2 linked regions of the Homo sapiens genome follow. The protein of the gene in region 1 purifies or fractionates together with the protein of each later gene. This does not show direct contact. Each region holds a gene or a part of one and is shown on either strand. Other genes may lie near its edges.

Region 1 (5,339 bases):
TCTCAGCGTCTTCTCTGGTAGAAAAAGCTTTAAATCGGGACCCTTTGATCATCTTGACAGCTTGCAATGCTTCCTTTTTATTTTCATAAACATAGATCCTTTCTGGGTAAGAAAAGTAACAAATGAAAATCAGAGAAGAGTGACTGGAGAGCTGTCACCTGGCCATGCCCTGGGCCTAACCATCAGCTTCCACATCTGCTACCCAGTCGCCTGGCTTAGTTCAGATCTTTAATCCTGAAGAAAAAGGGCCTAAGCTAGCCAAAATAGAACAATTAACAAGCTCGACAGTGTGCATATATGCATGTAACATGATATATATTATGTTCATATATGTAATTCTATATGCCAAGATTCTATCCTAAAAACTAAATTTCATATAAAGATCTAAATAAAAATTATTAAAAGGCAAATTAAAAAAAAAAACTATAATTATGTCAGCCAAGAACATAAGAGAATTTTAAACACAATTTTGAACAGGGAACGCCTTTTTATTTTTTACTTTATTTTTTTTTTTGGAGACGGAGTCTCGCTCTGTCGCTCAAGCTCAAGTGCAGTGGCACGATCTTGGCTCTTGCAACCTCTGCCTCCCAGGTTCAAGCGATTCTCCCGCCTCAGCCTCCCGAGTAGCTGGGATTATGGGCATCCGCCACCATGCCTAATTTTTTGTATTTTTAGTAGAGACGGGGTTTCATCATGTTGGCCAGGCTGGTCTCAAACTCCTGACCTCAGGTGATCTGTCCGCCTCGGCCTCCCAGAGTGCTGGGATTACAGGTGTCAGCCACGGCGCCCAGCCGGGAATGGCTGTTTTTTTTTGACATGGAGTCTCACTCAGCTGCCGAGGCTGGAGTGCAGTGGTGTGATCTTGGCTCACTGCGACCATCATCTCCCAGGTCCAAGCGATTCTCCCGTCTCAGCCTCCCGTGTAGCTGGGATTATAGGCACCGGCCACCATGCCTGGCTAATTGTTGTATTTTTAGTAGAGACGGGGTTTCACCATGTTGGCCAGGCTAGTCTTGAACTCCTGACCTTAGGTGACCTGCCCACCTCAGCCTCCCAAAGTGCTGGGATTACAGGCATGAGCCACTGTACCCGGCTGGGAATGCCTTTTTAAACATGCCAAGAAACCATTCAAAACAAGATAATCCTGATTATATAAAAATATTAAAGCTCTGTAGTGGAACTATCACAATTAAGTTTTGTATGAGACTATCGTAAATACATAAGATATACACTACTGGCCAGGAGACAAAAATTTATGAACAATGTAACAGACGAATGGTTACTGTCCACTACTGGATAAAAATAGCCATAGTTCGGGCACGGTGGCTCACGCCTGTAATCCCAGCACTTTGGGAGGCTGAGGCAGGTGGATCACCTGACGTTGAGAGTTTGAGACCAGCCTGACCAACGTGGAGAAACCCTGTCTCTACTAAAAATATAAAATTAGCCGGGCGTGGTGGCACACCCCTGTAGTACTAGCTACTCGGGAGGCTGCAGCAGGAAAATCACTGGAACCCAAAAGGCAGAGGTTGGAGTGAGCCAAGATCGCACCACTGCACTCCGGCCTGGCGACAGACCGGGACTCTGTCTCAAATAATAAGTAAATAAATAAATAAATAATAAAAATAAAAACTGCACCATGATCATTTCCCAGTGTTACTTTCTTTTTTTTGAGATGGAATCTAGCTCTGTCGCTCAGGCTGGAATGCAGTGGCACAATCTCAGCTCACTGCAACCTCAGCCTCCTAAGTAGCTGGGACTACAGGTGCCCACCACCACACCCCGCTAATTTTCTGTATTTTTAGTAAAGACGGGGCTTCACCGTGTTAGCCAGGATGGTCTCGATCTCCTGACCTCGTGATCTGCCTGCCTCGGCCTCCCAAAGTGCTGGGATTACAGGCGTGAGCCACCGCGCCCGGCCCCTACGTATTCTTTAAAAAGATCTTACAGAACAATATTCCATTCTATTCATAGTGTTTAACCAATTATGTACTCATAGGCGTCACCACAAATGGTATCACAGTAATAACAATACTCATAACAGTGTGCAATTTCTGGCATCCCAATTAATACTGAGTTCTCATTTCTTTTTTCCAATGCTAAATCTTCTTTAAAATTACAATTCTTGGGCTGGGCACAGTGGCTCACACCTGTAATCTCAGCACTTTGGGAGGCTCAGGTGGGAGGACTGCTTGAAGCCAGGAGTTCAAGACCAGACTAAGCAATAAAGCGAGACCCAGTCTCTTAAAAAAAAAAAAAAAAATTTAATTACCTAGGTGTGGCCAGGCGAGGTGGCTCACGCCTGTAATCCCAGCACTTCGGGAGGCTGAGCCTGGCAGATCACTTGAGCCCAGGAGTTGGGAGACCAGCCTGGGCAACATGGGGAAACATTGTCTCTACCAAGAATACAAAAAAACTGGCGCGTACTGGCACGTGCCCGTGATCCCAGCGATCCCAAGCTACTCCGGAGGCTGAGGTGGGAGGACTCCTTGAGCCTGGTAGGCAGACATTGCAGTGAGTTGTTGAGATTGCATCACTACACCCCAACCTGGGTGAGAGAGAGACCCCAGTCTCAAAAAAAAAAACCACCAAAAACAACCAATTAGCTAGGCGTGCTGGTGTGTGCCTGTAATCTTAGCACTTTGGGAGACCAAGGTGGGTGGATCGCTTGAGGGCAGTTCGAGAGAAGCGTGGGCAACGTGGCGAAACCCCGCCTCTATAAAAAATACAAAAATTGGCTGGGCGTGATGGCTCACACCTGTAATCCCAGAACTTTGGGAGGCCGAGGTGGGCAGATCACGACGTCAGGGGTTCGAGACCAGCTTGGCCAAAATCGCGAAACCTTGTCTCTACTAAAAATACAAAAAATAAAAAATTAGCTGGGTATGGTGGCGGGCGCCTGTAGTTCCCAGCTACTCAGGAGGCTGAGGTTACAGTGAGCTGAGATCGCACCACTGCACTCCAGCCCAGGTGACAGTGCGAGACTCTGTCTCAAAAAAACAAAACAAAACAAAACAAAAAAAAACCATAAAAATTAGCTGTGCGTGGTGGCGTATGCCTGTGGTCCCAGCTACTCAAGCGGCTGAGGTGGGAGGATCACCTGAGCCAGAAAGGTTGAGGCTGCAGTGAGCTGTGACTGCACCACTGCAATGCAGCCTAGGTGGCAGAGTAACACCCTGTTTCAGATGAATGAATAAATTAAAAAAATAAAATGGCCAGGCGCGGTGGCTCAAGCCTGTAATCTCAGCACTTTGGGAGGCCAAGGCAGGTGGATCATGAGGTCAGGAGTTCAAGACCAGCCTGGCCAAGATGGTGAAACCCCGTCTCTACTAAAAATACAAAAAATTAGCCAGGCGCGGTGGCAGGCGCCTGTAATCCCAGCTACTCAGGAGGCTGAGGCAGGAGAATCGCTTAAACTGGGAGGGGAGAGGTTGCAGTGAGCTGAGATCACGCCACTGCACTCTGGCCTGGGCAACAGAGTGAGACTTTGTCTCAAAAAATAAATAAATAAATAAAAACAAAATAAAACCACAAATCTTTGATGCTGAAAAGTATTTATACACTCATTGGCCATTTGCATTCATTAACATAAAAGATGTGCAGGTTACACTGCATTTTAAAAAGGCGGAGATGACTAATCAACAAAGTTCCTAACCAACAGCAGCAGCCAGTTAATATTAATATCTCAGTCCAGCATATCTCATAGAATCCAATTTACCTCACAAATTTTAACAGTTCTCATGTTAAATTCACAAATATTTCAGAAAAGTTCTACATAAAAATGTTAACAATGGTTAACTGGGGTGATGAGATGGAGGGGATTGGATTTTTTCCTTCTTAATCTGTAGTTTTCCATTTTCAGACGTCATCCCGCCCCTCCGCGTATGTGCTATCTGTGTGAGGAAATCCTACACACGGTCCCATTACCATTTCTCGCTGGGACGTCCTCATACACTGGACACACCCCATAGTACAGGGGCGGCTCCTTAGACGCAGTCGCTCCAGCTCTGTAGGTGTCGGTGTCACTAGGGGGCACCGAGCAGGTCTTGGATGTCACAGCTTCCTCCTCTGGAGGATTCAGGCCCACACTGTAACCAAAATCTCTGTCTTCAGAAAAACCAGCCTGATCAGTTGGGTTCCCTTCAGCTGGCTTCAAAATCCTTTGTGGGTCCTGGCTGAGAGCTGTGACACCTGCCTCATGGTGGTAGAAAGAAGACAGCCTTCCTCCTTGCTCCAGTAAAGCCTGAGCCAATTTTTTCTCAAAAATGAACCTTGTAGTTGATGTAATGGGTCCACATTTCAATCCGGCTTTGACGATTTCTTCTCTAAGGTCATCTGGATTCAGAAGTTTCAATCGAGCCAACAGAGCATCCATTGTCATTTCACCTAGGCCCAAGACAAAAAAATCAAAGAGTCACAAAATACTAACACCTGCTGAAGCTGGGTGATGGGTACTAGGGTTCATTATATAATGGCATCAGTTTCTGTTTCTTTCATTAAAAACTTTTTTTCTTGGCTGGACGCGGTGGCTCACGCCTGTAATCCCAGCATTTTGGGAGGCTGAGGCGGGCGGATCATCTGAGGTCAGGAGTTCGAGACCAGCCCGGCCAACATGGTGAAACCACGTCTCTACTGAAAATACAAAAAATTAGCCGGGTGTGGTGGCGGATGCCTGTAATCCCAGCTACTTGGGAGGCTGAGGCTGGAGAATCGCTTGAACCCAGGAGGCGGAGGCTGCAATTAGCCGAGATCACACCCCTGCACTCCAGCTTAGACAACAAGAGCGAAACTCCAGCTCAAAAAAAAAAAAAGAATTTTTCTTTTTTTTTTCGAGATGGTGTCTCCCTCTGTCGCACAGGCTGGAGTGCAGTGGTGCTATCGCAGCTCACTGCAACCTCTACCTCCTGAGTTCAAGTGATTCTCCAGCCTCAGCCTCCCAAGTAGCTGGGACTACAGGCGCCTGGAATCACACCTAGCTAATTTTTGTATTTTTAGGAGAGACGGGGTTTCACCATGTTGGCCAGGTTGGTCTTGCACTCCCGACCTCAGGTGATCCACCTGCCTTGGCCTCCCAAAGTGTTTGGATTACAGGCGTGAGCCTTTTTTCTTTTTGAGACGGAGTCTCGCTCTGTCACCAGGCAGGCTGGAGTGCAGTGGTGCGATCTCAGCTCACTGCAACCTCTGCCTCCTGGGTTCAAGCGGTTCTCCTGCCTCAAGCCTCCCGAGTAGCTGGGATTACAGGCGTGCACCACCACGCCCAGCTAATTTTGTACTTTTAGTAGAGACGGGGTTTCTCCATGTTGGTCAGGCTGGTCTTGAACTCCCAACCTCCCAAAGTG
Region 2 (3,831 bases), on another chromosome or scaffold:
TATGTTTAGCAAATAACTTTTTCCAGTATTTCATTACTCATCTACAAAGAAAAAAATAAGGTGCCATACATATATGTACACAGACTATAAAAAGCAACCAAATTCATTAGGAGAGATGAAATAAATCTAATATGGGCACAACATGCCTTCTTCACCAAACACCAAAGAAAACCAAATGGATACTAAAACTCCTGTCTGTAATTTCCAGATGCCAAAGATTAATCCGCAAATCATCTGCAGATAAATATGTTTCATAATCACTATTAATAGAAATTGAGTTGATGTGATATGTATGAGCATTGGCAAATATTCTTCGTGGACTGGCCTCAACCATTAGATCCATAGGCCTAAAGACTGGCACCTGTCAATAAGACACATGAAAAACAGAAATTACAAAAGGCTCAGTTTCAAATAGCAATTAAGATTCAGAAAACTTCATTATTTCAGTTTTTGAGAACATAAAATAGAACAATATTACATAGATTTAGTTTTAAAAAGCAACTGATGTTGATCCTTTCGAGTGCTGAAGAAAAAATGAACAATGTGGATAATATATCTTCTTTTACTGGTTGCAATACTATTAGAATTTGCAGTTCTTAGTTTCAATATTTTGCTTGAAAGACATGCCAAGCTAATAAATGTTTATGGTTCAGATTAAAGAGGCTAAAAAGAAAATTAACCCATAACATCTAATTCTTGGTATTTTTTAGCTACAACTAGAAGATTTGATCTGTATCTACTTTTTTGATTTCCAAAGAAAATTTATCTTGAAACTTGACCTTGTGATAGCTAACATGACAAACCAGAGATGAAGTCTGATGGCGTGAAATACTGTCTTGTGCTTGAGTCCTGCTTCTGTCCCTGGCCAAAGTGAGACCTCTATGTAGGTCAGTTTCTATGTTTAAATGAGTTACTCAATGTCCTACCTGATTACAGAATTACTGGGAAAGGGGAGATAGACTGTAATTATTCCTATTCAAGCTCTGCTCAGGATTTGGGCTATATAATATGAATACAAGCACTATCTGTGACATTTTTTTCTTATGTACTTACTCGTAGTGTAGTAACTGTAGTAGGATCTCTATACCTTCCATCCTCCTCTTTCAAGTTATACCCTTCTGGTCTTTTGTCCCTTTCACTGATTTTCCATAATTTTATTGTTTTATCTGGGAAGAAAATAAAGAAAAGTCCTTAAAATACTGAAGAAGAAAAACATTTTAAGGCATTTAAAATATGCTATTTCACATTTCACGTAAAAGGATTCCACGAAAAAAAAAAAAACCCTAATCTGAACTTACTAAAAAATTTCCTATTATCAGCTGAATAACATACACACATGGAAATAAAGTGCAAAGATTGGTGGCACTCATAAATTCCATGTGATAGTCAAATCAAGTCACAGACAGGTCTCTATCCCTGTCCCTTAAAAGTAATTAAAGCTAGAGGGAAAAACTTGATATGCATGTGTGGTGTATGCAAACACATATATGTCTGTACCTACATGTAAACATATACATGTTCAGTACTGAATTTTAAAAAATTTAAAGGGAACAATGAAGTTGATTAAGACTGCCTATTATGTAGAATCAAAATAGTAAAGCTGCTCTCCCTTGCTCCCACTTCTTAGCAGAGCCTATCAAAGATTCCACAGAGGCCTCCATAGGACTGGATGCCTCCTTTTTAAAACCTTTCCCCTTCTTGTATCAGGGTTCACAAGTAGGAAACAGGGCCTGAAGAAAACTGATTAAAAGCATACATCCCCAAGTCCTTCAAGAAGAAACCAAATTCCTAGGTATCAAGGATATATAAAATGGCATCTGTTTAAAAACAAACTTTTGTTTTACAATTAAGTTTAGATTTACAGAAAGTTACAAGAATTGCAGTGTTCCATATATCCTTTACCCAGTTTCTTCTGTCAACATCTTACGCAACCATGGTACGTGTGTCAAAACTAAGACGTCGACTTTGTATATTACTATTAACTACAGACTGCATTTGGAGATTTAACCAGGTTTTCCACTAACATTCCTTTTCTGCTCCAGAATTCAAACAACACTGCATTTAGTCATCAAGTTTCCTTAGTCTCTCTGCCTTTAAGTTTCTCAGGCTCTCCTTATTTTTCTTGATCTTGACAGTTTTGAGTAGTGGTGGTGAGGTACTTTGTAGAATATCCCTCAACTGGATTTGCTTGCTCTTTCCTCATGATCAGACTGGGACCATGGGTTTTTAGGAACAGAACAGAGAGATGAAGTGACTTCTCACAGCATTGTTCAAAGGGATACATGGTATCAACATGACTTACAGCTGGTGGCGTTAACTTGGGTCATTTGGTTAAGACAATGTTTGCCAGGCTTCTCCACTATACAATGACTCTTTCACCCTTGCCATATTCTGTTCTTTGGAAGTGAGTCACTAAATCCAGCCTGTACTTAAAGGGAGAAATAAGTTATACTCCCTGTAGGGAAGAGTATGTATCCACGTCTTATTTAGAATTCTCCTGCAGGAAGCATCCCTGCTCTCCATGTATCCATTCAATTGTTTATTTGTATCACTATAGGCTCATGCATGTTGATTTAAAACTGTTACAATTGTATAACAGTTTTTCTTATAGAAAAGCATACATTCCTAACGATCTTTCATAAGCAAAATGGTGTAACAAAATTGTTTATAACAGTATATAAAGCCATTTTATAAAAACAGAAACAACTCAGAGAGATGCCAGTGACTCTAGCCTGGCAGTCTCTGTATCGTACAGAAGAATGATAGTTGCCCCTAAGGATGCCCTTCCCAATGATGAAGTGTAAACAGAGAAAAACTGCTAACTTTAATCATCTGTAATCTATTATTTCTTCTAAGCCCTATGTGACCTTGCTTATAATTTTCTTGTAGTTCAGTCATACAGATTTTCTATGTGTTATTTAGTTTATATATGTATATGATTTATAGATAGATATGAGCCTAGCCTAAATCTGTATTCTGAGAAGTATTTGTTCTAAATACTTGCAAAGTATTTGTGATGAGGATGACAACACCCCCGCCCCCTGGTCCAGTTGTCTTGTGGCCTGTTTAAATCCATCCTCCTTATTAAAGATCCAAATAAAGAAACCACAATGTATTTATGAAACTTTCAGATGAGATAAAATTAGTTTGTGGTGCCTAATAGTGTTTACAGGAAGAAAGCTCTTTAAAAAATGTTTTTTCCTTAACACAAACACAGGACACATATGAATTAGGATACATTTTTCAGTAAGGTGGGGACAAGGCAGGCAGGAAATAAATCAGTATGTTAATAAATATGACATAAATTTTTAAAAAATCAGAATCCTTATGTTCTACAGCAGTGATATTTTATTACCTGGAGTTTTTGGCCCATAAGACAAAGTATGTGAGAATAATCAAACTCCATAAAACTGTATGTGAGATTATGTAAAAACACAGTTTTCAGTGGAGACGTTATTAGATTCTCAAGATCTGTTCCTTCCAAAACGACCACACTGTGGTGTTCCCCTGAATTATCAACACTAATAACTAAAGCATTGGAGAAACTGCAGAAGAACAGAGTTCCTCTCACCACAAGCAGAAGGTATGAGAGGTATGAGCAGGGAAAACCACGCTGCCGTTTCCTTTGTGGGAATGCAGCTTTATGTAAGACCCTAAAAAACTTATCAAGAAGTTGTTAAGACACACCCTATTTATGAGTGAACTTTACATTATTCATATATGTAACACTCATGGTTGACAGGTCAGTTTCATGTTTTCTGCAATGTAGAGGAATTAATGAGAATTCAGAGGAGCAAAAGAAGATTAAAGAGAAAGAGAATTAAAATGCTT

Evidence for each region. The genes of interacting proteins can lie anywhere in the genome.
Region 2: the proteins of ANKLE2 (region 1) and PPP2R2A purify together in Homo sapiens (pull-down; one study listed by IntAct). This does not show direct contact.

What each region holds. Positions count from the first base shown.
Region 1 is NC_000012.12:132,750,748-132,756,086, forward strand, and holds part of ANKLE2 (ankyrin repeat and LEM domain-containing protein 2), read right to left. Parts: intron 4,387-5,339; coding exon 3,928-4,386; intron 103-3,927; coding exon 1-102. UniProt on the Homo sapiens protein: Involved in mitotic nuclear envelope reassembly by promoting dephosphorylation of BAF/BANF1 during mitotic exit.
Region 2 is NC_000008.11:26,357,504-26,361,334, reverse strand, and holds part of PPP2R2A (serine/threonine-protein phosphatase 2A 55 kDa regulatory subunit B alpha isoform), read right to left. Parts: intron 1,167-3,831; coding exon 1,054-1,166; intron 362-1,053; coding exon 184-361; intron 1-183. UniProt on the Homo sapiens protein: Substrate-recognition subunit of protein phosphatase 2A (PP2A) that plays a key role in cell cycle by controlling mitosis entry and exit. Involved in chromosome clustering during late mitosis by mediating dephosphorylation of MKI67.